Linked DNA regions of Homo sapiens. The protein of the gene in region 4 interacts with the protein of the main gene of each other region in a pairwise test. Each region holds a gene or a part of one and is shown on either strand. Other genes may lie near its edges.

Region 1 (8,072 bases), on a different chromosome or scaffold from region 4:
CCCGCCCCCCACTCACTGCCTTCCTTTCTTTTTGTCCCCGCAGCACTTGTCACCGTGATATTTATTTAACTTAAAAAGTTTTCTGTTCCCGCCGACTAGAAGATTCGCCTGTGCAGTCATTGCGGCGTCCTCAGCGCCGACAGCAGCCTCTGGTGCTCAGTGAATGCGTGTGGAATCCATGATCAGTGAACAATGAGAGCAGCAGGGCCGGCTCACGGGGCCCACGCGGGAGACTTGGGTGGGAGAGGGTGCCCTTTGAGGGGGGGCGTGGAGGGGCAGGGCAGGACAGGGTCAGGACCTTCGAGGCCACCTGCTCTCCATCTGTCTCCATCCCTGGGACATCAGCCTGGCACTTCTGCAGAGTGTCTCAGCCTGGACAAGTGTCCGACATGGACAGGACCACAAGCACCGGTCATAGGAGTGAAGGAGAGAGTGTGGCCCGAACACCTGGGTGTCCTTGTGCAAAACCAAAACCAGAACCAAAAAGGAGCTCAACCTTGACCTCTAACCACATGCAAACCCAAGTTCAAGTGGATGAAAAGCCAATAGCCTCAGTTCTTCAGGAGGGTTCCTTAAACAAGACACAAACGCTTTAATCAGAAAGTGAAAAAACCTGACACATTCAACAAAATTAAAATTAAGAACTTTTGTTCATAGAAGGACCGTGTGAACAGCGAGACGCGGCGTCCCCCAGGAGGTGTGGCTGCTGCATGTGTAACTGACAGTGTGAAGAGCTCCCACAAATCAATGGGAAAAACACCTTGGTAGAAAATGCGCACGGCCTTCGCCGGTGAGGAAACCCAGCGGGCAGCAAACCAGGGCAGCCCACCCCAACAACGCTGGAGGGACAGTGATGGGGAGAAGCGGTTTCAAGAGTCTGTTCCGATCTTCCAGAGCTGACCCTATGCGCACCCTGTGCCCCGGAGGTTCCACTGAGGGTGCACACCCAGAATCGCAGCCCACATCCCCAGACACCCGCACAGGAGTTTCCTAAGGTGGCCCAGGCTGCACAGTGCCCGGCAGTCTGCCAGGGAACAAACGGATTTCAGGGAAGCCACCATGACAACAGCAACTGGTAGCTCCACCTACCACCACAAGGGACCCTCACAAACAGAATAGTTTTGGTGAAAAAAAGCCACCCCCAAAACACAGGCTGAAGGAATCCAGGTATGAGGTCCCAAAGCAGGCAACATACAACCATCTCTGCTGGGGATGCCCTCTCAGGTGGCAGAACCACGAGGACAGCAAGGAACCACTGAGCACAAGGTCGGTGTCCCGGTGACTGCTTGGAGTAGGATGGGGCTGTCTGTGGGGAAGGGTCTCGGGGGATCTTAGGGGCTGGCCGGGAGCAGGATGGGGCTGTCTGTGGGGAAGGGTCTCGGGGGATCTCGGGGGTTGGCCATGTTGAACTCCTTGACACAGGTGGTGGTCGCCAGGTGGTCGTTCTAAACTTAACCACTGAACTGTGCGGATATTTATTAATGTCTCTGCAGGCCTATCACAGTTCACGACTTTGAAAAATTCTATTTTGGGGGGAAAACGTGGACACCAAACAGGAGTAGCTCTGGGCACCCCAGGAGCCATGAGAGGCGACTGACCCACTTCTCTGTTTGACAGAGGAGGGAACCGAAGCTCAAATAGAAAAAGGGGCTGCCCAGCAGCACGCTGCAGGAGGCAGGCAGGAGGGACCCTGTTTGGAGGGAGAGGAGGGGATTAATTTGAGGGATTAGAGGCACAGAGGCTCTGAGCACACGGAGAGCCAGCCGGGACTTGGTAATATCTATAAATATTTGAGAGTCACAAGAATAGTTTTTCCAAGCAGTCGAAGACAAGATAGCTGAGTGTGGCTGAGCAAGGGTCAAAGGACAAGAGCCAAGGTGGCCAGGCCATCAAATGGTGTGGCTGCATATCTACCATGTGGCCCCCCGGCCTGTGGGAGCCCTACTGTGCGCCAGCCTCTGCCAGGCACTGTGGCTGTCAGAACACCAGGGGCCAGACCCCGGCTCTGTTCTCTGGGGTGCCCATCTGGGGCCCTGGGGAAGACAGAAGACACCCCAGATGTCAGTGGGAGCCCCACTGACCTCCACTCCCCACCCCTTACCTGTCTTCCCTAAACACATCTGCTCTGGGCAGCCCCCAGGCCTTTGCACCTCTTGGAGGGTGGCCTGTCTGTCCTTGGAAACTCCTACCCATTCTTCATGCCTTGGCTCAAGTGTCCCTGCTTCCCGGAAGCTCTTCCCAATACCCCAGGCCAGGGTTCACAACCTGGGACCCCAGAGCATTGTGGGCAAACCCCTTCTGTATTCTGTCCGCTGGCCTAGGAGGATCTGTTGTGGGCCTCTGTCCCCGGCACTGGAGGGCCAACCGGGTCTTTTCACAGAGCTGGTACCCAGAGGGGGCTGGAGTCCACTTGGGAGGGAGGGGCAAGAGCGTCATGAAAACCCCAGGGAAAAGGCGACAGGGAAGACACAGAGTTTGTCATGTGGACAAGAAGGCAGGGAAGGGCATTCTCTACAGCAGGGACTGCGTGGGCAAAGGCAGGGGCATGAAGGTGGCAGCTTGTGGGGAACTCGGAAGCAGGGCGACAGCATGGGGGGGCAGCCAGTGGGAGGGACCAGGGAAGAGAGACCCCTCAATGTACACCTGCCCACCAAAGGGAGCCATTGAGGGCCACAGTGCCACCAGGTGACATGGTCCTTTTGCTCTTCAGCAAATATTTACAGGACTGTCCCATAAGTCAGTCCTGGCTCCAGGCCCTGGGGGGTGTGGGAGAGGAGGGGGCCAGGACCAGCACTCTCAGAGCTCAATCCAGACCCACAGACCCAGCCTGTGATGTGCAGACTCCACAGTCCAGGGGCCAGGAGGCAGGACCGACCATAGGGTCATCCCTGTGGACACTTCAGGACCCCTTCACTGTGACCACCGTGTGGTCTGAGGTTCCCCAGAGACCCTCTACCTGGGCCTGCTCTGGGCCAGGTCCCAGGAGAGATGCTTCCACCACAGGGGCTCACGGCACCCAACATCCCTGCAACCTGGTTGTGGTTAGGACACCCACTTTACAGATGAGAAAACTGAGGCCCAACCAGGGCCAGGACTTTGTCAGTGACTGGGTCTGTGGGACCCCAAACCCTGTGCCCTTCTGTGCAGGAAGCCATGCTGACCAACTTCCCTTCCACTCCCCTGGGCTTTTGGTTCTGAATCCCAGGCACCAAATGCAGGACAGAAACCCACTGGGGCAGCCCCGACACTGGCCAGAAGGGAAGATTCTGGAAAAGCCCTTCAGGCAACTCTGAGAACACTAATTGGGTGAGAGGGAGAGGAGGGCAGGACCCCTCCCCAGTTCTAGGAGTCCTTGCCCCACGCCACCCCTGGCAACTCCAGAAAGGCCACATGGCCCGATGCAGCCCAGGAGCCCAGGCCCTGGCCACTGCCTCCAGCCTTTATGGCTTAGCCCAGGGAAGCCTCAGCCCGCCTGGGACAGCAACGCTGACGCCATCAGCAGCTCAGGCAGCAGATCCGCCCACCTGGCACACCTGCCTACCTGTGCACCCAGCCGGGCGGGGTCATGCCTCTGTCCTCAGTGCCTGGCACACAGGAATAGGTGCCGGAGAGCCTTGGCCGGGCACAGGGAAGGAGGGAAAGAGAAAGAGAACCACCGCAGGGAACCCCCAGGCTGGCCTCAGGGCACCCCATGAATGCTAAGTTTTTCCTCAAGTCTCAGCTGAGTTAAGCAGTGTTTCCTCCCCCCCACAGGCGGTACAACCCAGGTGGTGAAATGACAGCCAATGTGGGGCACCAGGGAAGGGCCCTGGCCTGGGCCAGAGCCTGAGTTTGGGCCTGAGGTCATCTGTGTGACCACAGCCAGGGCTGTCGCTCTTTGGGCCTCACCGCCCCCACCTGGACCTTGGCCACGACAAGGTGGGCCTGGCTGATGGGTATCAGGTATTTGGGGTCTGAGATTGAACCACCTCAGAGACTGGACCCCTCCTCCCAGCACAAGACATGTTGGTCCTGTCCCTGTGGGACCCACAGTGGGGGCTGCACATCAGCTCCATGGCCCAGGAGATGGCCCTGCTCTGAGAGTCCACCCTGGGTCTCTGTGTGAGCCCACCTGCCCCCAGGCTCCCACCTGGGTGTTTCCAAGCCACTCACCCACGGCACTAAGGGTCAGCTGGCAGAGCCCAGGGCCCCTCTGCCCTAGACCTGGGCCCAGGCTGGGCTCTGCTCCTTGGGGGAGGGATGCTCCTCTACCCGGCCTCCTCCCCAGGATGCCAATTCTGGCCTCGGGAGGGAGTGGCGAGGACGGAGACCCTGTGGGCCAGGGGAGACAGTGCTGAAACCCAGCAGCCAGAGCTGGGCCTGCCGCCCACACAACGCCTCGGCTCAGGCTCCGGAAGGAAAACACGGGAGGGGTGTTCCCAAAGTAGGGGTCAGGGTGCCAGGGGAAGTCGTGGAGGAAGTGGCAAATATTCAAACTGGCTGATCCCAGGCCTGCCGCGCAGGTGGTCCCGTGAAGTCTACCAAGGCTTAAAGTTTGGCACCGGGAGGGAGGCCGCGGGGGACACTCCCCAGAAGCTGTCGCGGGATTCCCCCAAAATGGCTCCAAGACGCGGCTGCCTGGTCCAGCCGCGAGGACTCCATCCCCCACCCCCGCCCCCCAGAGGCGGACACTTAAAAGCTCAGAGCCAGGCAACTGGCAGCCCGGGGGCTGGGGCGGGTGGTGGTTGGGGGTGGGGTGGGGTCGGGGGAGAGAGCGCCGGGGCAGTGCGGAACGGCACGAACGGAACCCGGAGGGTCCCCGGGGACCAGCGAGAGTCCAGGGCAGGGAGCCAGAGGGGCGCTGAGGACCGCACAGGACCAGGCGGCCCCGGGTAGGGGGCAGCCCGGCCCTCAGTGGCGCTAGCCCCAGCCCCCGCCGCAGCGGCCCGGGCCGGCGGAGGAGCCCCGCGCGAGGCTCCCCAGCGCCTCGCGGCGCGCACACACGCACCACACACACGCACCTGGCCCGCAGCCCCGCCGAGGCCGCCCGCGGGCCCTGGGGGATGCGCTCGGGTGGAGCCCCCTTCCCCCGCCTTCCCCAGCGCCCTCACCCCCGACCCGGCCCCCGCGAGCCGCGGCACGGGAGACGCTCCACTCACCTGAGTTTCTCCATGTCTGCGGCAGAGGCCTGCGAGAAACCAAACGAGAGGGTCAGCAGGCAGGAGGCGTGCGCTCCGCGGCCGCGCCGGGCAGAGCCGGGCACAGCGGGCACGGCCGGGCAACCCCGCGGGGCCCCGTCCGTGGGAAGCCCGGCGCCGCGCGTCCCCAGCTTCCAGTCCCGGCCGCGGCCCCCGTGACTCAGTGGGCGCGCCGGGCCGCGGCCGAGTAACAGGTGAGCCCGCCCGGGCCGCCGCGCTCCCCGCACCGAGTTACGCCCCCCGGGGCGAAGAAGGGGCCGGCCCGGGATGGCCCGGCCAGGGGCGATCTCGGCCTCGCCCGGAGGAGGGGGACTCGGCCTGTCCCCGTTAACTCTCCGGCGGCCGCGGCCCCGCTGCTCCCCCCGCCCCGCCCGTTAACCCTTCCTGCCCCGCGCTCCCTCCCGGAGGAAGCCGAACCCCGGAATCGCAGAACCTCCGAGTCGGAGAATGTTGGGGAATTCGGGGCCGTGCAGGATTGCAGAACCTGACACTCACACAATCCGAGGGCGATGGCATTTGGAGCCTCGACTCCTCAATCAGGGACCCGCTGCCCTCAGATTCTGGGGTTTTGGGCCTGGCTTGCCCCTCCCGGGCCCCAGGGATTAACCCGTGAGCGCCCGGCTCGCCGGCGGGGCTCCCTGCCTTGCTTGCGCAGACCCGCCCGCGCGCGGCTTGGAGACCCTCCCTGCCCAGCCCCGCTCAGCCGGGCAGCCCCTCCGCGCGCCGGGCAGGGGGACCCACCCGCCGCCGTTAACCTTGTGGGCGCGGGCGAGCGACGGGGACCGCGAGCGGCCCGGGCGGGATCGCACTTCCTGCGTGGAGCTGGGGGCGCCGGGCGGGCTCTCTATCACCCGGGAGAGGCCGCTCCCCGGGGCTTTGCCCGTCTTTCTGTGCCGTGACTGGCACTCAAGGGGGACAGGGGTCCGAGCTCAGGGACCACGCGACAGACCTGGGAAGACTGATGACTGCCCATCCCGGCCCCTCGCGCCGGGCGCCGCCGCCGCGTCCGCCGGGAGCGCGCTCCGCTCGGGTCCGGGCCCCACGCCGCCTCCCCCACCGCCCCGCCGGGCGAGGGCGCAGCCCGGCCGCAGCGCCAAGCTAGAAGGCCCGGCCCCGGGGCCTCGGCCAGGCTCGGCCACCAACTTCCCGGGTGCTCGGGCCGGCCTTCCGGCGCTCTCCCGGCCTCAGTTTCCTCACCTGAAAGCTGGGGGGAAGGGGGAGGCAGCTGGACGAGGCGCTCCACTGCCCTTCCGCACCCGCGGGCTGCGGATCGGCTGGGGTGGGGGAAGGAATTTCAGGGGAAGGGATCCCTAAGGCGCCCGGATGGCGGTTCCCCTCCCCAGACGCTCTAAAAGTTGTCCAAGACCACAAGCCTGGACCCCTCCATAAACCCTCCTCCTGCAAGACAAGGAGTTTGCCGGGAAGACTTTGCCGCCGGCCAGCGCGACCCCCACACCGCTCTCTTCCCCAGGCCCACCTTTCCGGGTCCCCATGACAGCGCTTCTCATGCTAGGTCCCAGCATACAGCAGGCGCTCAATAAACACGGACAGTGCATGCCTGGATCCTACGGCACTGGAGCCTGTCTTTCCTGGCCCTTTCCCCTCCTGGCTGTGAGCTCCCGGGCAGGAGCCCTGTGTTCTCACCAGGACACCCCCAGCACCCAGCAGGCTTGGCCTGCGCTGAGCCAGCGCAGGGTGGGAGGAGCCGTCCACTCAGAGGGTCAGACCTGAACCAGGATCAAACCAAACCCAAGAAATCCAAGTGTTCCTCCATCCACGGACACCCACTCGTTCACTAGCTCTGGGCTAAGTTCTCCAGCAGAGAGGGGACAGCAGACAAAGCAGAGAGGGGACAGCAGAGGAAGCAAGCTCTGCTCTCCAGGGGCTAATGAGGAAAACCCCCTCCGCCCCCCTCCGGTCCTGGGAGGCCACCCTCAGCAGAATGGCCACGGTAGTCATAACAATAACGTCCACCGCCCCTTACACATCATAGCGCTTCCCACGGCTCCTCACCACAGCTCTGCCATGGAAGCCCCGGACCCCCTATGCGGGAGCAAAGCTCCAACAGAGAAGAGGCTTGCTGGAGATCCCGCAGCTGAAGGGGCCCAGCTGCGCCTGGACCCCACTGCTCAGGAGCCTTTCCCACCCAAAGGCTGTCTCTGGTTGCCAACCTCAATCACTCACGGCGAATGACCTGCCAGGGAGTTTGTCTAAAATTAATAAGAATGTATTAAAATTTAATTTTAAAAATCTAGCATTAATTATTTACATTGAATGTTTCAGCCCTTCTAAAAGGCCTGGATGGGAATTCCCCCCACCCCCAGAAGGGAACTGGGGGGAAAGGCAGGGGAGGTTGCTGAGCTGCCCTGGTGGAGCAGTGGGGGCTGGGCAGGGCAAGAGACAGGCAGGGAACAGGCAGCCCCTGCCCTTCAAGCCTATTCTAGAGCCTGAAGCCTGGCTTTGATGCTGCTGTAGCTCAAATCCTCCTCTGACCCATTGCCTTCGGGGCAACCACTGCCCTCCCCCTTGGAGGCTGTATCCTCCATGCGGCCCTCTGTGGGAACTCTGGGGAGTCACTGAGTTTACCCCCACACCAGATGGGACAGGACTCTGTGTCCCAGCTCTGTGTCCCTGGACCAGCCCAGCACCTGGCAGGGGCGGGGGGACTAAAAGATGGGTTGTGCCTGATGCTCTCCATGCAGGAGTGACACAGGCATCTTTATGGGTGGCTAGGGAGAAGATAGCAGGGAAGCTCCCCTGGCCGAGGTGCTACGCCCTCGGGGACAGTCTCCCATGAGGCTCCTGCACGGGCCCAGCACCCCGGGTGCAAGTTTTGATTCAGCCATTCATTGACCACAAGACTCGGTGATTTTCGTGAGACCCTTACTACGGGTG
Region 2 (9,010 bases), on a different chromosome or scaffold from region 4:
GTAACCCTCAGAGGGGAATGGGAAACATTTATATTTCTACCTCAAAGCTGGACCAAACTCAGTTATTTATTTACTTTTATTTTTATTTTTTTAAGACGTAATCTGGCTCTGTCGCCCAGGCAGGAGTGTAGTAGCATGACCTCGGCTCACTGCAACCTCTGCCTCCCGGGCTCAAGTGATCCTCCTGCCTCTGCCTCCCAAGTAGCTGGGATTGCAGGTGAGCACCACCAAGCCCGGCTAATTTTTGTATTTTTAGTAGAGATGGGGTTTCACCGTGTTGGTCAGGCTGGTCTCGAACTCCTGACCTCATGATCTGCCCACCTTGGCCTCCCAAAGTGCTGGGATTACAGACGTGAGCCACCGTACCCGGCCTCAAGCTCAGTTATTTAAGTGGTAGTAGGCAGTGGGTTTGTCAGGGTTATATCTTGGTATTCAGTGAACGCAAGCTGCTGAGTTCCATCCACCAAGTGCCAGGGTTATGAGGGTGAAAGGAGAAAAGCCGATAGGGAGGAGAAACCTGCCCCAGGAAAATGCACAATTCGAAGGTCCCTTGCAGAGGGTCCTGATGACATGTTCCACAGTGCTAAGGTCTAGCTTATCCATCATGCTGCCCCTTTTTAAAGGGAAAGGATGAGGACATCCACAGTGTCTCTAAGAGAAACAGTGAGTCTGGCCCAACATCACTAAATGCTGGTGAATAAGGAATATGGTAGATTAATGATGTTGTATTTTTTTTTAAATTTTATTTATTTACTATTTTTTGAGACAGGGTCTCACTCTCTTGCCCGGACTGGAGTGCAGTGGCCCGATCTCGGCTCACTGCAACCTCCGCCTCCCAGGTTCAAGCGATTCTCCTGCTTCAGCCTCCTGAGTAGCTGGGATTACAGGTGCATGCCACTACCGCCTGGCTAGTTTTTGTATTTTTAGTAGAGATGGGGTTTCACTATGTTGGCCAGGCTGGTCTTGAACTCCTGACCCCAAATGATGTACCCACCTCAGACTCCTAAAGTGTTGGGATTACAAGCATGAGCCACTCACTGCTCCCGGCCTGTATTATTTATTTATTTATTTATTTATTTTTTTTTGAGACGGAGTCTTGCTGTGTCTCCCAGGCAGCTGGAATGCAGTGGCAAGATCTCAGCTCACTGCAACCTCCTCCTCCTGGGTTCAAGCAATTCTTGTGCCTCAGCCTCCAGAATAGCTGGGATTACAGGCACAGGTCACCATGCCTGGCTGATTTTCTTTCTTTTTTTGAGATGGAGTCTCACTCTGCTGCCAGGCTGGAGTGCAGTGGCATGATCTGGGCTCACTGCAACCTCCACCTCCTGGGTTCTCCTGCCTCAGCCTCCCGAGTAGTTGGGACTACAGGTGCAAGCCACCACACCTGGCTAATTTTTGTATTTTTAGTAGAGACAAGGTTTTACCATGTTGGCCAGGATTGTCTCGATCTTTTGACCCCGTGATCCGCGCACCTTGGCCTCCCAAAGTGCTGGGATTACAGGCGTGAGCCACCACGCCCGGCCATTTTTTTTTTTTTAATAGACAGGGTCTTGCTTTGTTGCCCAGGCTACAAGGCACTAGTGTGATCACAGCTCACTACACCCTCTCGAACTTCTGGGTTCAAGTAATCCTCCTGCCTCAGCCTCCTGAGTAGCTGAAACTTTTATTATTATTATTATTATTATTTGTAGGGACAGGGTCTTACTATGTTTCCCAGGCTGGTCTTGAATTCCTTACCTCAAGTGATCCTCCCACCTTGGCCTCCCAAAGTATTGGGATTACAGGCATGAGCCATCATGACCAGCCCTGTGCTTCTTTCTTAAAATGAATGGGGATTCTCTTTCTGGGTCTGCTTCATATCCTTTTCATAGAGAATGGCAGTTTACTAAATTAATCCTGTGCTGGGTAACAATTCTCTTTCTCTCTCTCTCTTTTCTTTTTCCTTTTTTTTCTTTTTTCTTTTTTTGAGACGGAGTCTCACTCTGTCGCCCAGGCTAGAGTGCAGTGGCGTGATCTTGGCTCACTGCAACCTCTGCCCTCTGCCTCCCTGGTTCAAGCGATTCTCCTGCCTCAGCCTCCCAAGTAGCTGGGAATACAGGTGCCTGCCACCATGCCCGGCTAAATTTTTTTTTTTTTTGAGACGTAGTCTCGCTCTGTTGCCCAGGCTGGAGTGCAGTGGCAGGATCTCGGCTCACTGCAAGCTCTGCCTCCCAGGTTCATGCCATTCTCCTGCCTCAGCCTCCCGAGTAGCTGGGACTACAGGTGCCCACCCCCATGCCTGGCTAATTTTTTGTATTTTGTAGAGACCGGGTTTCACCACGTTAGCCAGGATGGTCTCGATCTCCTGACCTAGTGATCCCCCCGCCTCGGCCTCCCAAAGTGCTGGGATTATAGGCGTGAGCCACCGTGCCTGGCCTCTTAGGGGCTTTTGTAGGCTTTTCTCTGTCAAGGCAGCAGACCCTGAAGAGTTTAGGTGGGATTGGGTGGTGTTTTTTTTTTTTTCCCCCACTGGGAATGAGTAGAAGGGGGGACACTACATTCATTCAACACTTACTGGGTGCCTATTACATACAAGAGCTGTGTCAAGAGCTTCACATATTCTGCCTAAATGTTCCCAACAATGTTTGTGGGGTGGGCTGTATCATTCCCATGTTTGAGATATATAAGCTGAGGCCTGGAACTTGAAGGGCCCTGTCTGAAGTCCCAAAACTAGAAAACGATTTAGCCAAAATTTTTGTTTTAATCCGTATGTATGGCTCTCCAGGCTGATGGAGCTGGTCATATTTTGCAGTACCCAGAGGCTATACACCTGAGTACAGGCAGAAGCTACCCAGAGGATGATCTCTCCAGGCTTCTAAAGTATTTCTTTACTTGTTCAATGGTAATATTACTACTTTATACAGTTGTTGTGAGGATTAAATATGGTACGTAGGCCGGGTGTGGGGGTTCACGCTTGTAATCCCAGTTTGAGAGGTCGAAGTGGGAGGGTCGCTTGAGTCTAGGAGTTCGAAACCAGCCTGGGCAACGTGGTGAAACCTCGTCTCTACAAAAAACAAACGAACAAAGAAACACCCAAAAATTAGCCAAGCGTAGTGGCGCATGCCTGTAGTCCCAGCTACTCGGGAGGCTGAGGTAGAAGGATCGCTTGAGCCCGGGAGGTCGAGGCTGCAGTGAGCCGTAGTAGTGCCACTGCACTCCAGCCTGGGCGACAGAACGAGATCTTGTCTCAAAAATAAAATATTTAAAAATGTGGTATATAAAGCATTTGGCATATAGTACATTCAATACAAGCTGGTTGTTACTAGTAATGATAAAGTGCGCCTACCGTTTTGCTAGCACGTAACGTCTTCACTGGGCTAAATCAGCCCGATTCTAACCATTGACTCTGTGGTGCTGGAGCCCTAGATCAATGGTCAGAGGCCAGCAGGAGGTGCAGAGGTCCGGATCAAGTGCCATTTCCCTCTCTAGAAGTACTCAAACCCTCATCTCTGCCCTCATCCCTGCCAGCGCCTACCTCGACGCGGACGAGAAGCTGTGGTACCGCGACTGCTGGCAGGCCATGACCCACGGGCAGGCGGGCAATCAGCACCCGCGGCCTGGGAAGCTGTGGTAGCGTACAGCCGGTCGCCATGGCGACCAGGCCCCAGAGGCCCCCCCGCGGCGGGGGCGGAGTCAGGGATGCGCCACGCCCCCGAGCCTAGCGCCCGCGGGCTGGGAGTAGGACAAAGTAGCAAAGGTGGACTGGGACCCGGCAGCGGGTGCCCTGAGAGTCAACCACTACAGCCGATTTGACCCCAGGTACCAGAACTGAGGCAGGGGGATGAACAGAGGCCATGGGGAGGGAAGTGTGCTGAGAGGCCGGAGCCGCTTTGCCGGCGGGAATGGTAGTTTTCGGTGTCCCGACGTCTCGATGGGACAGGCTTATGGCTGAGGACGGTTATACTACATCTCCCAGAATTCTCTACCAGCCCGAGTTGCTCCGCCTCTCGAGAGCTCTGCATTGTGGGGTATGGAGTTCGAAATGTGGTAAGGCGTGTCAGTGTCCAAAGAGGGGTGCCGGACTCGGACTCGGTTTCCCTGCGGCCCAGGGAGGCTCACGGGCCATTGGCTGAGCGGGGCGGATCTGGTCCCGCTCCTCCCCGCCCCCAGTGACACAATAGTAGCTCCCTCCAAGATGGCGGCAGCGACGGCAGACCCGGGAGCTGGGAACCCGCAGCCTGGGGACTCCTCCGGCGGGGGCGCTGGGGGCGGGCTGCCGTCCCCTGGGGAGCAGGAGCTGAGCCGGCGCTTGCAGCGCCTGTATCCCGCGGTCAACCAGCAAGAGACTCCGCTGCCGCGCTCCTGGAGCCCCAAGGACAAATACAACTACATTGGTCTCTCCCAGGGCAACCTCCGCGTCCACTACAAAGGTATCGGCCCGTCAGGCTGGGGGGAATTAAGGCTAGAGCGTCCGTGGGGTGGCTCTGCTGCCAGGCCCCCGCCCTATCACCTCCCTTTCCCTGCCTAGGTGCTCCAAGTTAGGGCTTGGCCCTTTCAGGATGTCCAGGGTGGTGAGGCTGAACAGGCCGAGGGCTGACTGCCTGTTCTCTGTCCTGAGACACCTGCCGTCAAGAGAACCGCAACAGGTGTCCAAACCCAGTGCTGGGCCGGACCTTCCACTCCAGGGCCTCCGTGCTTATCCTAGGCTGGCGCCAACGGCAGCGGGACCTTTCGCCACTGCTTAGAAGAAAGGGGTGGTCACATACCTACCATTAGCGTGAGACTCATGGGCTTCCCCACCTGCCAGGCATCCTAGACTGAGCCTGGGGTTCCGTGCTAGAGTTTGGGGGGTGTCTTCCAGGTCGGCCTCATCCTTCTTCCCCTGGCCTCCCAGGTGGGCTGCCTGGATTCTAGAGAGGCTGCCAGCAGCACTTGAGTATCTCTCACATTGCCTCTACCCTTGTTTTGTTTGTATGGGCAGTGTCTCAGGCAGGACTGCTGTTCTCAGGAGGAGGTGAGGCAAAGGTGGAAGGTTTAAGTGTTTATTCAGTTGTCTAATGATTCCTCGGCCTGTGTAAGTGCGTCCTCTGGCCACAGAGGAGTGGAGTTGTCATGGAGGAGTTGCAGAGAAAAATGAGGCTTCCATTTGCATTTCCTTCTGCTGAAATTTCTTACTTGCCCTCTCCTGTTAGGTCATGGCAAAAATCACAAAGATGCGGCCTCAGTGCGTGCCACCCACCCCATACCTGCTGCCTGTGGCATTTATTACTTTGAAGTGAAGATTGTCAGCAAAGGAAGAGATGGGTAAGCCCTTCATGACCACCCTCTTTCCCTGATCATGGAGCTGATCCCTGTGGTCAGAGTTCAGGTCCTTTGGCTGGCACTTGTTGCTGATGTGAGCTGGGGAGCCGCATGGGTCTGGGCTGCCATTATTTCCTGACTGTGGGCATGGTCTGGTCTAAGCAGCAGATCTTGATGGCCAGTGGGTGTGTTGGGGGTAAAGCAGGGATTATTTTTAGTGATGATGTAATTTGATACCTAGAAGGTTAGGCAAACAAGTAACAAGTTTACTTTAAAAATTTAGTGTCCAGAATGGAGTTTCCCTCATGAGCATGTGGTGTTTTTGTGACTTCCTTCCTTTCACATTCTTGCTGTATTCATGAGGTTCTTTTTTATGGCATTTAGTCATGTGGAGGCCCTGGTAGCCTTCAAAGAGATAGTAGAGTCTTTGCAGCATTCATGAAAGCTTCTGTGGCCACCGGCCTGTCATCTCAGGGTAAACAGCATACACATGATCAGAATCAGGTGACCTTGCTGCTCATAAACTTGTTTTTCAGTCCAAGGACTTGAACACTACTAGTTGGATCAACTTTAGGAAGGTCCTCATTAAAGTCAGCATTAGGAGCCAGGCACGGTGGCTCACGCCTGTAATCCCAGCAATTTGGGAGGCTAAGATGGGCAGATCACCTGAGGTCAGGAGTTGGAGACTAGCCTGGCAAACATGCTGAAACCCTGTCTCTACTAAAAATACAAAAAAATTAACTGGCATACCTGTAATCCTATCACTTCAGAAGACCGAGGCGGGCGGATCACTTGAGATCAGGAGTTCAAGACCAGCCTGGCCAGCATGGTAAAACCCCATCTCTAAAAAAAAATTCAAAAATTAGCTGGGTGTGGTGGTGTGCACCTGTAATCCCAGCTACTTGGGAGGCTGAGGCATGAAAATCACTTGAACATGGGAGGTGGAGGTTGTAGTGAGCTGAGATTGCACCACTGCACTCTAGCCTGGGCAATAGAGTGAGACTCTGTCCCAAAACCAAACAAAAAAAAAAGTCAGCATTAGGGAGACTCCCTATTTTAGGATGATCCAAGCAGACACAGGAAATCATAGGGGAGATACTTAATTTTTTTTCTTTCTCCCAGTCTCCCTTTTTTTCCCAGTGATTGTGACGAAGCAGGTGTGTAAGTTATGAAGTAACATGACTGCAGCTACCTTGGAAAGGCTTTCCTCATCAGACTTTAGGTTTGGTGTCTGAAGTTTGCCAACCCCTCTGGTGACCATGCCAACGCTGAGGGTGTGTTCTCGAACATTCAGAACTTCTTTCTCCTAGGGACTGTCCCCTTTGTAGTGCATGCAAAATGCTTGGCCAAGGGACTAGGCTGGGGGCAACACTGCCAGAGTCAGAGCCTTGCCTACTTCCTCAGTGATGTAACTTCTCTGCCTGAGAGGTCTCTGTGGTCTTGGGTAGATGTTGGAGCTTCAGTCTCCTGATCTGCACTGTGAGGATCCAGGCCAGCATCTAAGCTGCCTGAACTCCAGAATTCTATGCCTCTGAAATTCTGATCATGGGAAGCTGCTGTATCTTTCTCTCTCTCTCTCTTTTTTTTTTTTTTTTTTTTTAATGAGATGGGGTCTTGCTCTGTCTCCCACGCTGAAGTGCAGTGGCAAGATCACAATCACAGCTCACTGCAGCCTCGACCTTCTGGGCTCGAGTTATCCTCCCACCTCAGCCTCCTGAGTAACTGGGAATACAGGTGCATGCCACCACGCCTGGCTAATTTTTTTTTTTTTTTTTTTTTTGAGACGGAGTTTTGCTCCTGTTGCCCAGGCTGGAGTGCAATGGCGCAATCTCAGCTCACCACAACCTCCGCCTCCCAGGTTCAAGTAATTCTCCTGCCTCAGCCTCCTGAGTAGCTGGGCTTACAGGCATGTGCCACCACACCAGGCTAATTTTGTATTTTTAGTAGAGATGGGGTTTCTCCATGTTGGTCAGGCTGGTCTCAAACTCCTGACCTCAGGTGATTCGCCTGCCTTGGCCTCCCAAAGTGCTGGGATTACAGGTGTGGGCCACCGCACCCAGCCTAATTTTTTAAATTATTTGTAGAGATGAGGTCTTGCTATGTTGCCCAGGCTGGTCTCTAGTGATCCTCCCACCTTGGCCTCTCAAACTGCTGGGACTACAGGCATGAGCTACTGCACCCGGCCATCTTTCATTTTTATCCCCATCTAGTGCGTTTACAGACAGGAAAGTTAAATTTATGGGAGGGCTTCAAAGCTCCTATTTTCACCTTCCACCGTCTGATAGAAGCACATATATTTAGTGTGCTTGAACTAGTGTGAATGAGAATAGCCCCTTAAAACAAGCACCTTGAAAATAATGTTGACTAAAATGGTGGTGCTGGAGTCTCATACTGCCACAGAAACTGAAGTGCACTTCTTAAATTTGTAGGGAGGAAAATGGATTGTTTTCTCCTAGTCTTTATCATAGATAACAGCTGAGTTAGTTATCTAGGTAGAGAGCAGAGACCAACTTCAGAAGGGAAGTGTTTACACTTAGAGACCTGGATTCTTTTTTTCTTTTTGTATTTTTTGAGAGATGAGGTCTGGCTATGTTGGAGATCTGGATTCTTTCAACTGGTTTTAACATTTCAGTTTTAGTCGATCTTGCTGTGTCATGTTAGATTGGTGAACTATAGGTGTTGACTGGAAGTCTAAAGAAAGGTGGGCATCTATTCCCAGCATTTTACATGTGGTAAACATGGCTGTTGAGCTGATCTGGAAACATCAGATGTTAATTAATTAATTTATTTATTTGCCACACAGTCTCCTTTATCATCCAGGCTGGAGTGCATTGACTCAATCTCGGCTCATTGCAACCTCTACTTTCTGGGTTCAAGTGATTCTCCTGCCTCAGCCTCCCGAGTAGCTGGGATTACAGGCATACGCCACCACGCCTGGCTAATTTTTGTATTTTTAGTAGAGATGGGGTTTCGCCATGTTGGCCAGGCTGGTTTCGAACTCCTGACCTCAGGTGATTCACCTGCGTCAGTCTCCCAAAGTGCTAAGATTACAGGCATGAGCCATGGTGCCCAGCAAGGAAACATCAGTTTTAGAAAGGTCTCAGGTCATGTATACCTGTGGTATCCTGCTTCAGTTGACCACTGTCAGATGGCAAGAGTATGAATAGCTCCTCATGGTCTCTTTATGGAATCCCTGAAAGCCTTCCCATGGCTGGGATGCAGCCACATGTTAGTATGGGCCAGGTGGGTTTTGAGGAGGCCAAAGGCAGTTACACAGGGCAGGCAGACATCAACTGGCTCATTTCCCTTTTTTTGTAGATTTTTTTTTTTTTTTTTGAGGCAGGGTCTCGCTCTGTTGCTCAGGCTGGAGTGCAATGGCATGATCACAGCTCACCGCCACCTCAACTTCCTGGGCTCAGTCAATCCTCCCACCTCAGCTTCCTGAGTAGCTGGGACTATAGGTGTGTGCCATCATGCTTGGCTCATTTTCTTATTTTTTGTAGAGATGGGGTCTCACAATGTTTCCTAGGCTGGTCTTGAATTCCTGGGCTCAAGTATTTCTTCCACCTCAGCCTTCCAAAGTGCTGGGATTATAGTCATGAGCCACCATGCCCAGCTGATTTTTTTTTTAACTATTTTATAGAGATGGGATCTTGCTGTGTTGTCTAGGCTGGTCTCCAACTCCTAGCCTCAAGTGATCCTCCTGCCTCAAAGTGATCCAAAGTGCTGG
Region 3 (7,104 bases), on a different chromosome or scaffold from region 4:
TTAACAAACACAGAAATTAAATTTGATGAAGTCTAAATGTTTTCCCCAAGGTCACAGCTGGGAAATGCAGGTGTAGGACTTCAGGCCTTTTGACTACCCATCTGTGTTTGATTTTGAATTATTTCTTAAAACCTCTGGCAATGTCCAATGATTATTGTCAGGAATGACTTACATATTCTGAGACTATCCTGTAAGAAGCTGTGATGATGGCTGGTATATAAATGATGCCTTCTCACATTGGGACTGCCTTGCACTTACAAGCAGCAATTATTCACTATTGCTTTTCTGCAAAATGTGTGGATATTATGTCCATTTACTCTGATGGATAGATTGAAGCAGGAATCTAAGCTATGTTTTTCTTTGTCACTCTTCACAGGGAGGGGAAGAAGGGTTATTTCTTGAGAATTCCAGCTAAATGTTCCTTGTCAAACAATCAGAACAAACTCCCATTCCCTAAAGAATAGAAAGAGAAATAGCAAATGTTTAATGAAAAGACCCATGCTATTTCTTCAAAGTGTTCTAGATTCACTCCCCACAACTTATCTGATTCTCAAATAAAATATTTGGAGAGCCTAATAGGTCACAAAGTTTTGGAGACCATGGACATTTAAAAAAATATCTTTGGAAAGGTAAAGTATGTTAGTATAGATAAATCATAATTAAGACAGCAGAGTTTAATAGGATCCATACTCGTGACTATCTACACAAGTGAATTAAATATTAAAGATCTTTTCCCCTATTTATACTGTTCCCATATATGTTTCTTTCTGTATCCAAAGACATTTAGAAGGGAAGGTTGTAGCTTTTCACCTTCAGGTGCCGGTGGCCAAAAACAACCCTAAACTTGTCTGACTGGCTCTAAGGAGGAATGTCGGTAAACAAGGCCTGAGTAAACAAGAGAGAGACCTGCCCATCAATCACCTGGGTAGTCAAGCAATGTAGGCCATCTTCCTGGGTGCTTACAAATCAGTTCCCATCCCTCAGATAAATGCAAAACATCCTTCCAGAGAAATGTAATTTATTATCATGTTAGCAGTGGTGAGTTAGGGAAGGAGCAGAATAAAAGATATTCTACCTAGCAATGGGGACCCGCTGTAGTAGTAAGAAACTAAGTACCTTAAGGGACTGGGGAGTTTTCTTAAACCTCTCTGGCAGGAGCATGTATTGGCCTCTGTTTCATAAATGTGGGTCATTTTCATCACCTTGGGATGTTAGACTTTGGCAGGTCTGATGATGAAACAAGGCTGCACATGCTCGTAAGAAGAAATGACCTTCCCATCCTTAATCTCCTTGGTGATGGTGCAAATTTTAACCAGTATCCGGGACAGGGGTCCGCAGGCACTGCAGTGCTCCTTTAAGCTGCAGGGGGATGAGGATGTGCAAGCTGGGGCCGTGCTTTCTATGGCTCCGGACTTACAAGATGTCCAAGGGGAAGGCTCACATTTGGTGGCACGTGGGTAACAGGGACGCCTAAGGAAAAAAAACACAATTTTAGCTGTGATTGAGGGAAGGCGATGATGGTCATGGAGAAAAATGATTGTGGCTAATTTTTTTAACACGTGTTGCTCAAGACAAGTACATACTTCTAAATGCTTATTCATTTATTTTGTACTGTAGTTACTGGAAGAAAAAGAATCAGATTAAATCCATTGGAAATCAGCATCCTAGGTTTAGAAGTATTCGATTATGTAAGTTTCCATTAGTCAATACCATCACATTGTGGAAAGAATACTGCACTAGCAGTCAAAAGACTGAGGCAGAGACCAGCTCTGTCCTTTACCAGCTGGTGACCTCAGCTAAGTCATTTAACGCACTCAACCTTTAGTTTTTCATCTGCAGAATGGATATAATGGAAACTAAACCCACAGGATCAACAGTGATAAGGAACAAGTTGAGGGCATTATTATCCGAGGAATGGAAATTAACCAGATATTTTTCTCATTGAGGAGTTAGTCATACTAATAGTGGTGGCCTGAACCCCAGCTATGAAAGAGTCCTCACTGTGTCATCAGGAAGCTTCAAAGTGCCTTCTGGCTGTCTATGCATAGTTTTTAGAGAACTGAAGTAAAAAGCAGTTCATAGTAAACACTCTTTTTATAAACATAATCTTTCTTTGATGATTCGAGGTATTTTGGTATATGATCACAGCTCCTAAAGGTGACAGCATTGATGACCATTGTGCTCACATAATGTGGTCATGCCAATTAAAAGAATGCTGTGAAGAGTTCACTGATTATTTTCGGGAAGTAGGTCTCCTTTGCAATTGTAACTAAGTCTCTGGGGTTTTAGTTTGGACTGAGTTGCTTCAAAGAACTCATCCTCCATATATGTTTACTTATGGGTTGGTTAGCTTCTTATTGCTTACAAAAATTATAACTTTTATTTTTTAAAAAAGATGCTAAAACATACATGTGTACATGCTTCTGTTGGCCTCAAGGACTAGTGGCTAGATAGGGTTAGGGGTTTCAGCCTGAGCAGAATGTTCCTCCAAAGGAGCCTGGGTTGTTTTGTACAAGCTCATGAAAATCAGACGTTCATCTCAGTGGGGAAACATCTGTAATGGTCACCAGGAATATTCATCTATGGGGAAATAATTTTTTCTCTAGTAATTTTTAAAACTCTAAGAAGGTAAGCAACCTATAAGAAATTAACCTGGCCCATGGGCTCTTCAGAACAGCTCAGGTCAGCCAATGCCTCAAATTTGGATAAGGTTACAATTGCAAGTCTTCCTCATGGCACAGCTTGAGAGGGTGTGTGGATGCCTCTGTCCAAGCTCCCCATCACTGGCAAGAAGGTCAAACAAAGCACTTGACCCCTGTTGCCAGTGGCAGTACATATATCTGCGTTCATTTACACTTTTTTGTCATAGAAGTTGCTGTTATTTTACATACTTGCCATCCGAGCTCTCCAGAAGGCTGCGGTATGTGGTAATCTCACATTCCAGCCGGGACTTGACGTCCAGCAGGATCTCGTATTCTTGGTTCTGTCTTTCCAGGGCACACCGGATCTCTGCCAGCTGAGCTTCCAGGTTATCAATCAGACTCTGGATCTGGGTCAGCAAGGCCGTGTAGCGAGCCTCTGTCTCCGTTAGGATGCACTCTTGGGAATCTCTCTACCATGGAGAAGGATAGTAGGATTTATAATGACTCCTTTAAGCCCAGGTCACCTGTGACCTGTATCATTTAAAAAAAATGGTTTCTTTGTGACACTACTGATAGATCTCCAAGCACTTTATTTATTGTTTCCTAATCAAATAAATCCAAAACCCAAATGATCAACTATGCTAAAATCTGCTTTCCTTTATCTCTTCCCTCTTTCTCTCTTTCTCTTTTTGCTTCTCTGTAAGTATTTGTTTCACTTTCTCTTTCTTGACCAACCAATAGTCTCGCACCACACTTTCCTACTTAGGAGAGAAAAAATAATAACTTAATGCACACCCAGGCATTAAAAATGCATTACTGGCTGGGCGCAGTGGCTCACGCCTATAATCCCAGCACTTTGGGAGGCCCAGGTGGGTGGATCACAAGGTCAGGAGTTCAAGACCAGCCTGGCCAAGATGGTGAAACCCCGTCTCTACTAAAAATACAAAAAATTAGCTGGGTGTTCTGGTGGGCACCTGTAATCCCAGCTACTTGGGAGGCTAAGGCAGAGAATTGCTTGAACCCGGGAGGTGGAGGTTGCAGTGACCCGAGATCGTGCCACTGCTGTCCAGTCTGGGCGACAGAGTGAGACTCCATCTCAAAAAGAAAAAAAAAAAAAAGCATTACCATGGCACTTCATTCAGTGAGTGTTCGTGTCTTAAAAAAGGAAGGAAGCAATGTTTTACCATATACAATTTATCCACCAGATCAATTCCTTTATATGTAAAATATGAAAGTTGAAACTGATGAGTAAATTTCATTCCTGCTCTATCATTCTGTAAGTCTATGGATAATGATGGGATTTTAGGTTTTAATAGCCTATTATTTGCATGATTATCCCAATTTTTATAGATGAGAAAACTGAGGTTCAAGTGGTTCAATATGTTGTCCAAGGTCACATGACTAGCTGGTGACAAAACCAGTGTGGGGCAAGGTCTTCCCAAAAGCCTTCACATCAGAGCATGTAAGCAATTCTCTACTTCAGAGAGGCATTATCATGAGACAGAATGATACTGGCTTTGGAATCTAAACTCTGGCTCAGACTCTTATTTCTTTTGTGACTTTGGATGAGTTTCTTAATGTCTCAGGATCTCAGTGTCTCTATAAAATAGGTGGGCTGAAACTTACCTTGGATTTGCTTGGGAAAATCACTTTAGCTCTTGGAGCCTCATCTGTAACATTCGTTAATAATTATGCCACCCCCCCTCTTAGGATTGCTTTATAAATCTCATGTGATAGCTTGTAAAAATGCTTTGCATATAATAAAATGCTCTCCCAGTGTTTCCCAAAGTGTACTTCATGAATCATTAATACCATGAGATGTTCTAAAAAAAGTGGGGGGATCCACAGTCAAATAAGTTTTGGAATGCTGAATACCATATACCCCCTTCCTGGAGATTCATGGTGTATATTAGCTTATTAATGGCTCACAGGAAGGCACCCTGTTTAACCTTGGTTTAGTGCAGCGTTTCGTAGACTTATTTGGCCACAAAGCTCTTTTTCAGCCATAGACGCTTTAACAAATGAGGAACTATTGTTCTGAAAGACACAGTTTGGGAAATACTGCAGCACACAGGTGTAAGGGACTGTTTCCATCTTTGCTGAGCTAGGCTTGGTCAGCTTGCTCAGTACCATTCGATGCTGGGCCTGCAGTTCAACCTCCAGAGTGTTCACACTGCGTCTCAGTTCTATGATCTCCTTTTGGCAGCATTGCTGCTGTTGAGAGCTGGTCACCACTTGTTGATTCAGCTCCTCTATCTGAAACACACAGCCAGAGACTGAGAATATTATGGGAGGAAAACATGACTTTGATTAAAGGGCCCTAGAAATGCAGCATCAGCTTATTGTTTTTGACTTTTCTATATCCCCCACCTGCGTGTTGAACCACTGTTCCACATCTTTGCGGTTTGTCTCCATGATGGGCTCATATTGACATCTCATTTCTTGTAGAACCTGGTTTAGGTCAGCAGAAGGGGCAGCAGTCACTTCAATGTCAAGTCTCTCCCCAAGCTGACACTGTAAAGAATTGATTTCCTAAGGAAAGAAAAAGACTGTGAAGTCACTTGGTGAACAGATAACCCCTTTGTGTTCTTGTTTCACTCTAACTGCTACGATTTAGCTTAATTGTGTCTAAAATATAGCCCACAACAAAGGAATACATGATTTACAGGTGTTATTGAGATGCTATAAAATGATTTAAGACTCTTTCAGGTAGGACTGTGTGTTTAAATGTGTGCAAAATTAAAAAAAAATGAGTAGCAAGACCAGAGTTCCAAAAAATTTAGATCATTTCCAGGGCTGGATAATGGGTGAAACAGGATAAAGGTGGAATTGATCATGAGAGATTATAGTCTCTATGGTGCAAATACGGGATTGTGCCAATATTGACTTGCACCAATATTGACTTGTACCAATGGGAGGTGGCAGAAGCCTGTATAGGGATGCCTACAAACATGGGAAGACTGTAAGGACAGAAAAATTGGGTTCCTTCTTGTAGAAAAGCTGGAGGGGATGTTGGAGGCCTTTCTTCCCCTTATGGCTCCAGATATTGTGTTGGAGCCAGTGGATTTGAAATACTACCTTGAACCAGTGCTAGTAGCAGTAGGTATTTTCAGGGCTAAACCAGAGTAGTACGTAGCAGTGGTTTGGCTCTGTGTCCCCACCCAAATCTCATCTCGAATTGTAATTCCCATAATTCCCATGTGTCAAGGGAGGGACCTAGTGGGAGGAGATTGGATCATGGGGGTGGTGTCCCCCATGCTGTTCTTAGGATAGTGAGTGAGTTCTCACAAGATCTGATAGTTTTATAAAGGGCTCTTCCCCCTTTGGTCTCTCTCTGTCTCCTGCTGCCAAGTGAGATGTGCCTGCTTCCCCTTAAGCCATGATTGTAAGTTTCCTGAGGCCTCCCCAGCCATGTGGAACTGTGACTCAGTTACACTTCTGTCCTTTATAAATTACCTACTCTCAGTTATTTCTTTATAGCAGTGTGAGAACGAACTAATACAAGCGGGCACACCCTTTGTCAGGTGCAACTCAAAGGAACTGATGCTACTTTTAGGGACTTAGCTTGTGATTACTCTATTGGTCTTTGTCTCACCTCTTTGTGGTTGTTCTTGAGGCAAAGGAGCTCCTCTTTCAGAGACTGGACTTGTGCCTCTAGGTCGGCCTTGCCCAGGGTCAGCACATTCAGGATCTGCTTGAGGCCATTGGCATCTGACTCTACCAGCTGGCGTAGAGACACCTCAGCTTCGTATCTTTAAAAACCAGATGGGAAAAGAGAGACATCTGAAAGGAGATGATGCAAACCAAGCCAAGCAGAACTCTCATCTGCATTTTGCTCTGGGCACCTCACTTAGTGTATTTCTATTAGAAGTTTTATTCTCTTTGGAGGTGAAACCATTTGATATAGATCATAACTTAATTATTATTCCCAAATTAGTTTGCTAGGGGGATCTACATTGCTGTTCTTTGAGATATGGGAATTTATTGTCCTTCCTCTGCCCCTAGTGGCAATGCAATGTAAGTGAAGAAAGCACTGGATTAGGGCTCAGAAAACATGTGTCCAAGTTTCGGTTTTGACTTGTGCTAGTTATGCTTACCTTTGGGTGAGTAACTTAGCCTCACTAAGCCACAGATTTCTCACCTTAAAGAGAGTAACAATATATTAGTCCTATCTATTTTACTGAACTATTGTGTAGGTAATCAAATGGGTTCACAAGTTAGAAACTATAGGTACTGTATACATGTGAGCAGTTATTAATCTTAATCATTCATTGAATTTGAAAGTCTTTTCTGGGCTTGTGCCAACATCATCTGGGGCAAGAGGGTTAGTAGACATGGGGACAATTTTGTTGAGGGCATCTCGGTCAGACTCAGGGTGAGCTCTGTCATTGATGACGGTGTTGGGTGGGCTTACTTGGCTCTCAAGTCATCTGCAGTCAGTTTGGTGTTGTCAATTTGCGAG
Region 4 (7,467 bases):
TAGATTGCTGTCATATCTTACGAAAGTCTGTCTCTCACTTGCGCTGGTAAGTTACACTAAGCTCTAACTGATTTTTTTTTGCGGGGGGGAGGGGACAGAGTCTCACTCTGTTGCCCAGGCTGGAGTGCAGTGGCACGATCTCGGCTCACTGCAAGCTCTGCCTCCTGGGTTCACGCCATTCTCCTGCCTCAGCCTCCCGAGTAGCTGGGACTACAGGCACCCGCCACCATGCCCGGCTAATTTTTTGTATTTTTAGTAGAGACAGGGTTTCACAGTGTTAGCCAGAATGGTCTCTACCTCCTGACCTCGTGATCTGCCCACCTCGGCCTCCCAAAGTGCTGGGATTACAGGCGTGAGCCACCGCGCCTGGCCCCCTCTAACTGATTTAATAACAAGAAAAGGTTTCCAAATGAGGGAGTGGGAGGCAAGGAACCCCAATTCAATTCCAGACAGCGGACCTCAGCCACCACCATGCATATAACCATCAGAAACGATCCTGTCTAGGCACAGCAGAAGAGCACAAGTGGCCAAAACTGGCTTTTGAACCTCCCCAAGGTTTGAACCTCCCAAGAGGAACCAGAATAGACCGCTGTGAATCTACATCCCCCTACTTGGTGACATCTAGCTTCCACCACATCCCCGGCCCTTCTCAATGCAGAAGTGGCTGAAAGCAGGAACAGCCGCAGGGTTCAGATACAGTAAATGCTTAATCAACGTTTCCATGATTACTGCTGTTGCTGCTAACACCATCATTATTACTGTTATTGTTTTGTGAGGACACACTGCCCCTAAACACAGGGCTCCTGAAAGGGACTCTGGCTTCCCTCTAATGACAACAGTGACACAACAACTAATATTTACGAGCTCTTATTATTTGCCAGTGTGCTCAGCATTCTGCTTGAACACAAAAGTGATGCTACGAAGCATGGACTATTATTACCAACTACCATTTAAGACAACGAAGCTGACGCTTAGAAAGATCCAGTTGCTTGCTAAAGTCATACAGCGAGCAGGTGCAGAGCTGAGATGTGAAGCTGGAAGTTCTGCCTTTGGAGCCCCCGCTCTTACCGCTATCCAGCGCCACCACTCCACCTGCTCCGGGAGCATCCACTCACACATGCTGCCATGTGAACAGAGGCCTCTCGGGTTCTAAAGCATAGTAACAGGTCACAGTGATATCTGAGTATGACATTGTGCAACATTAGAACGAGCCCTCACTGTGGAAAACCAAGGCCAGGACAGACTCTCGGGTGGGGACATCAGTACCAGCACCTTCCTCCTCTGTTGGCGGGTGTGGCTGGGAACACAGTCTGCCCAGGTCTACCAGCATCATCACAATTTCCCCACTCTCCCTGGCATCACAAACCACTGTCCCACCTTAACCTTGATGCACTGGGGTTATTCTGTTTTGAACTTAGTTTGCTATGATGTGCCATCTCTGTTTCTTCAAACTTCTATTTCCTATTAATTGTATCTGTCCTGAGAGATGACAAATACTAAAATTTACACTTCTTGGAAGATAAAAGCAAGCTTTGAAATGCAAGAAAAATAACATTTGAGTTATACCAGTAATAATATTTACATTCAAATTCTATTGCAAGACAGCAAAAGTTCAGCAACATTTAAGGACTATAAAGTTTCATTCAATGGTCCCATGTTTTTGAAATATATAAAAATATTTTATATAAATATTACATAAAAGACAATAGGCAAATTATAATATTTTACTGAAATAATTAAGTCCATCCTCAAATGTTTCTTTTTAATCATCTAACCACAACTTTCGGGTCAACTGAAAAAAAGGTCATTTTAAACCCCCTTCTGTTGTCTATGGATTTAAATTGTGAGGAAAAATCTTTAAAACTTAATTTTGGACTAATTAAAATGAAAGCAAGAAAGAAAAATCAGCTTGCAGTCAGATATGAAATGAAGGCCAACAAAGTTCTTAAAACCAATCAAGAGTTACATCAGGTAGAACTCAGAGACTGGAAACTCCAGTTTTCTTCTTTCCTCATTCCTGTTGGTAATTCCAGAAGTCCACAGCCTGCTTCCCTAAGTTTCTTATTGTTATTAACACACCATACACAGATCTCACAGTGCATTGTACTCCACACATTTGGATGGGTCTGTAGGAAAGTGTTTCTGGCAAATGGTCATTAACCTCTTCAATCCCTAAGAAAATAAGGAAAACAAAGGTTGGTTATGACATGGTTAAATTATTCTTAACTGCCTTCCTCTGAACTCGTTATCAGTTTGTCAATGTCCCCATAAAATGCAGCAGACCCAAGCAAATTCACTCAGATGTATGCCTAGAGAAATTTTTCTTGTGCACCTGCAGGTCCACACAAGAATGTTCATCACAGAACTGTTCACAATAACAAAACCAAAAAACTGGTAACAACCCAAATTTCCATCCATAGGAGGACATATGAAAAAAACTTTAGTGTGCTCACAAATGGGATATCTTACAGCAGTAAAAATGAATTAACTCTAGCTACATGTAACAATTCGGCCAGTCTCAACCAGGTTCCAATAGAGAATTAAGCTCCAAATGCCCAGCCTAAGGCATCCATTGTATGTAACGAGATAACTTCTCCCTTATGCATCTAAAATTTAGGAGACTATTTATGTATCATGTTTGGAGGACTGAGAAAATACACTCCAATTATTTTCTGTGTTCTGTGGTCAAGATGAGGGGCTCTGGTTGGGAAAGGCCGATGTATATGAATCTTAGAAGCAATGTCGAAAGTAAAAAGCAAGTGGCATGAAGTGTTACTACCTTCAGTGACATCCTTTTCATAAAATTCAAAAACAAGTAAAAAATGTATTACTTAGAAATGCACATATAACATGGTGGAACGGTTTTTCAAAAAGAAAGGAAATGACAAACTTAAGTGCAAGGTAATGGTTACTTCTGGAGTATGGAAGGACAATATTGTTTCAATGGTTTTCAGAATGTTCTAGTTCTTAAACTGGGAGTAAGGCTTTTAGACATTCATTTTATTACTTACTTTATAACTTGTGTTTTACATGTATTCTTTTGTATGTACCAAATATTACACAATAAAACCACTTTAATATGTCAGTAAAAACTGAGTACAACATTCCAAGCGTGACCTGGCCATTCTTGCAGAATTCACTAGAAGTAGTCACTGCACTACTTTTGTTCTGTATCTTGGCAACTGTAACCAAGACCCTTAGCTGTTTTTAGACAACTACAATACACACACCTAATTCCCACCGATCTCACAAAATTCAAGTGCCTTTTGTCTCTACAGCAGTTTGGCCAGTTCTCCAGTGTATAACTTTATAGTTAGATTTTTTAAGCTGATGAAAACAACTATCACTATTCAATTTCATCCTGTCTCTTTCAACTCATCCTTCAGTCTGTGATCTTTCAGAATCCTTGGTCGACATTTAGCTTTAGTTATTCTTCTTAGCTTTCTCATCCACCACTCGGTAAACATGTCCTCTAAGTCATTATCCAAATACTCAATACCGTGCGCAAACAGGCCAGGGCAAGGGCAGAGACCTGAGACACACCACGATTGAGCTCTCTCCAAAACGATCTTGGGAAGAGTTTGTAACCAGCAATGAATCCTATTCACTGTGCAATTCATTAACACACACATTTCCTTGTTTACAAGGAAAGACTTTGCCAAAGGTCTTACTGAAATCTACGTAACTTAACACCTGTTAAGCTCAATAAAATCACCAAAACAAACAAACAACACAAAAATCCCTGCAAAATCTCATTGGTCCCATAGTAAGCAGACAACACAAATATTAATCACAGTCAGTATCCATGGGTTATGTGTCCATGGATTCAACCAACCCTGGTTAAAAAATATTCAGAAAAAAACGGCAACAAAAAAAGAATTAAAAATAATACAAATAAATATCATATAATAACTATTTAAATAGCATTTACATTGTGTTGGGTATTGTAAGTAATCTAGAGATGATTTAAAGTATACAGGAGGATGTGCATAGATTATATGCAAATACTATGTCATTTTCTATCAGGGACTTGAGCATCCAGATTTTGGTATCTGCAGGGTCCTGGAACCAATCCCTGAGGATATTAAGGGACAAATGACATACTTCTATGAATGGAGCCATAATCTAACAGATTCCACATCAGAGAAACAAGACTGTGAAGTATTTAAAGTCCTTGGTGGATTCAAGGATTGCCCACATTATGAGATTTAGGAATTAGGGGTGTGGAGGGAGGTTATCTTTCAACTGATTCACAAGAAGGGCTTTTGCACACGTCATTCACTTGGCTCCTTTTTGTTGTTGTTGTTCCCTGTGTAATCAGGTATTTGCTTTGGGATAAAGACCATTCCATCACATAGTCCAGCTTATCCTGCTGTGAATTCTAATCATGTGTATGCAGAACTTTGATCGGTAGCCATGGAAATATAGATGATAGCACTAATTTGGCATCTTAAGGTTCCTGAAGGAATAGGTGAGAAGAGGGGCAAAGTCAGGCAAGAGAACACCCTGATGAAATACAAATAGCTTCACTCAGCAGCAGAGCATGGCAAGAATTGTTATGCGCAAGCGGAAGGCAAACTGATGGTTTGCCTTGGAGGTGGTTTTCCCCATGTCAGAAGAATTGGAATCTTAGGTGTGTGCTCCTTACAGAAGACGTGTGTGATGCCTATTTATACTCACTAAGCAGATTCTATGATTTAAAAACATATACTAGTGTTCTCCCTGAAATCTTAGCTGCCAAGGGTTGTGAAACTCAATTGTTTTAGTCATAAGTAGTTACCACAGAGCGGTATGATACATTTTTGTAAAAAAGATTTGAGAGTGCATGGCAGAGATAGGTGTGTAATCTCAGGACAGAATATCGTTATTTTCCAGATGGAAACAAATCTTTTCAATTAGACCCCTCAGGATTTCAGTTTCAAACTGCTTATGGATGCTTAAGCCAGTAAAACAATGAGCTGCTTAGCTTAGCTTATGGCAAATGGCTTAAAAACTTGTGGTATTTTTAATTGGCTTTTTATTTATATAAAGGCAATACCCTTATCTAACAAATGTTTATTCAGTGCCTACTATACATACTGTTCTAGGCTCTGGAAATACAGTAGCGAAGAAGCCAGAAAAAATCCCACCCTCCTGAGATCGAATTGTGGTAAGGGAAGACAGGCAAGAAACAAAATAAATTCATAAAAAAAAATTTTCAACGATGCTAAGTGCTTTGGAGAAAATAAAGCAGGCAAGTGGGGTAAGTGGACGTGTGGGGCAACCTGAAGGACTTTGGCTTGGACTCTGTGAACTAGGAAGCCCCTGCAGGGTTCTGAACAACAGAGCAACACGATCTGACTGTATGTGAACTGGATCAGTCTGGGGAATGCTGCTAAGAAACTGGAGAGGAGCAATAAGAGAAACTCAGGGACCAGAGAGAAGACACTGGAATAATTCAGATGAGAGGTGGTGGCTGGACCCAGTGGCAGCAAGGAAGGTGGTGAGAAGGGATCGGGCTCCAGACATACTTTGAATATAGAACCATCAAGCTTTGACATGGATAGGATATGGGTTGTGACAGGAAGAAAAAAGCCAAGGATAATTCCGGGTTTTCTGTGTACACTGTTTGAGGGGAAAAAAAAAAAATCACACGATTCTTGTATCAAATAATAGCAGTCCTCTACCTCACTCTTTCCAAATCCTAATTCCAGCTCTCCACAGGCAACCCTTTTCAAACGTTTTAAGTGTTTCCTCTGGCATTTATTGCCACATTTCTAAATACTATACTGACAGTGCTTGGTTTTTCCACCAGATATTAGTGATATCTCCTGACTTCCTACTATGAAGCAGAGGATATCTCACTCTTACACCACTGTCCACTGGCCCCACATATGCACGCACACGCCTCAAAAGCACTTTCTCCCACATCCTCCCCAAACCACATTTTTAGTGAAATCAATATTCAGGGTTTTCCTTATAAAGGCTACACAAATATCGTTCAAAGCAAACCCACATAACATATTATGATGATGACCTCTCATAAGTTTTTTTCCCCTTTTTGTTTTGTTTTTCTAATCCATTCTCCAACATGAGACTACCCTCACATGCCCAAACATCACTCAGGATCTGATCAGACATGCCAGGGAATATAAGCTCTTCCATTTCTTCCTGGAGTCCTTCAACCATCTACTCTAACCTGGACCCACTTGTACTGCTACCATCCTGGAGCATGACATCCCTGCAGCTCCAGCCTGGGGATTCCTCTCGCCTTGCTCTGTGGTGGATCTCAGCTCTTGGATCTTTTTCTTTGGATGGAGGACATCCTCAGGTAGAGTCAAGACTGCCCACATTCCAATCCCAATTCTACCACTGACTAGCCATGTGACCTTGAGAACTCACTTCTCTACGCCTCTTCCCCACTTACAAAACAGGGAAATGTGAGTGTCCATCTCATATTGTGGCTGTAAAGTACTGAAGGGAAGCACAGTAAGCACTACTTAAGTGTCAGCTATGACGATAATGACTACAGAGAATGTGTGCATGGGAGATGTCATTAGCCTATATTTACCCTTCACTTGATGGTTCAGAAAGGAAGAGAATTCTGAGTTGGACAATATTTCCCTAGCTATTGCAAAGGTACTGCTCTACTGTCTTCTACCTTCTAGTGCTATCAGTGAGAAGTATGACAGTATTTTAATTCCTGCACCTTTGTAAGCGACCTTTTCTCTGAAGTCTTTGAAATCTTCTCTTTAGCTTTGGCCTTCCAACATGCATTCTTTTGTGCCTTGATGTGAACTCTTCCTATTCATTTGCGCTGTATTAAGTGAATTCTTTTCATTCTACAAACTCACGTCCTTCAGGTCTGGGACGTTTTCTTACATTAATTCTTTATTTCCTATCTTCCCTTTTCTGTTGTAATGGCTATAAACGTTATAGATTGACTCTTATTTTCTTACCTTTCCTGCTTTTCATATTTCAACTTTATCTTCTAACCCACTAATGTAATTACTAAATTTTTGCTGATTTAAATTTTTGCTAATTTTTAAGAGTTCATTTTGATTCTCAAACTTTTTTATAGCCTAATGTTCTTATTTCATGGCTACAACGTTACCTAAGAATTTTTTTGTTTGTTTTGTTTTCAGACCCGTCTGTCACCCAGGCTGGAGTGCAGTGGCACGATCCTAGCTCACTGCAGCCTCAAACTCCTGGGCTCAAGCAATCCTCCTACCTCAGCCTCCTGAATAGGCATGCACCACCACGTCCAGCTAAATTTTTTATTTTTTGTAGAGAAGGGATCTATTTTGCCCAGGCTGGTCTAGAACTCCCGGTCTCAAGCACCCCTCCCACCTCAGCCTCCTAAAGTGGTGGGATTACAGGCATGAGCCACCACGCTTGGCCTCTAAGGATATTAATTATCATTCTCAATGAAATTTTTTTCTGTTCTCTATAATTCTGTTTCTATGAAGGTCTTTTTTTCTGTGTGTT

What was found.
Region 1: the proteins of PRPF18 (region 4) and BEGAIN interact in binary tests that used the Homo sapiens proteins (3 or more experiments, as listed by UniProt).
Region 2: the proteins of PRPF18 (region 4) and TSNAXIP1 interact in binary tests that used the Homo sapiens proteins (3 or more experiments, as listed by UniProt).
Region 3: the proteins of PRPF18 (region 4) and KRT39 interact in binary tests that used the Homo sapiens proteins (3 or more experiments, as listed by UniProt).

What each region holds. Positions count from the first base shown.
Region 1 is NC_000014.9:100,562,773-100,570,844, forward strand, and holds part of BEGAIN (brain-enriched guanylate kinase-associated protein), read right to left. Parts: intron 7,021-8,072; exon of another isoform or gene 6,375-7,020; intron 6,206-6,374; exon of another isoform or gene 6,151-6,205; coding exon of another isoform or gene 6,127-6,150; exon of another isoform or gene 5,919-6,126; intron 5,722-5,918; exon of another isoform or gene 5,694-5,721; coding exon of another isoform or gene 5,673-5,693; intron 5,530-5,672; exon of another isoform or gene 5,168-5,529; coding exon 5,139-5,167; intron 4,312-5,138; exon of another isoform or gene 4,153-4,311; intron 1-4,152. UniProt on the Homo sapiens protein: May sustain the structure of the postsynaptic density (PSD).
Region 2 is NC_000016.10:67,801,701-67,810,710, reverse strand, and holds the start of TSNAXIP1 (translin-associated factor X-interacting protein 1), read right to left. Parts: upstream 3,823-9,010; 5' UTR 3,632-3,822; coding exon of another isoform or gene 3,562-3,631; coding exon 3,515-3,561; exon of another isoform or gene 3,326-3,514; intron 1-3,325. Other genes in the region: RANBP10 (ran-binding protein 10), read left to right, coding at 4,175-4,409, 5,172-5,283. UniProt on the Homo sapiens protein: Possible role in spermatogenesis.
Region 3 is NC_000017.11:40,957,390-40,964,493, forward strand, and holds the end of KRT39 (keratin, type I cytoskeletal 39), read right to left. Parts: coding exon 7,057-7,104; intron 6,395-7,056; coding exon 6,238-6,394; intron 5,175-6,237; coding exon 5,013-5,174; intron 4,899-5,012; coding exon 4,773-4,898; intron 3,113-4,772; coding exon 2,892-3,112; intron 1,471-2,891; coding exon 1,212-1,470; 3' UTR 1,028-1,211; downstream 1-1,027. UniProt on the Homo sapiens protein: May play a role in late hair differentiation.
Region 4 is NC_000010.11:13,624,965-13,632,431, reverse strand, and holds the end of PRPF18 (pre-mRNA-splicing factor 18), read right to left. Parts: intron 2,173-7,467; coding exon 2,092-2,172; 3' UTR 1,573-2,091; downstream 1-1,572.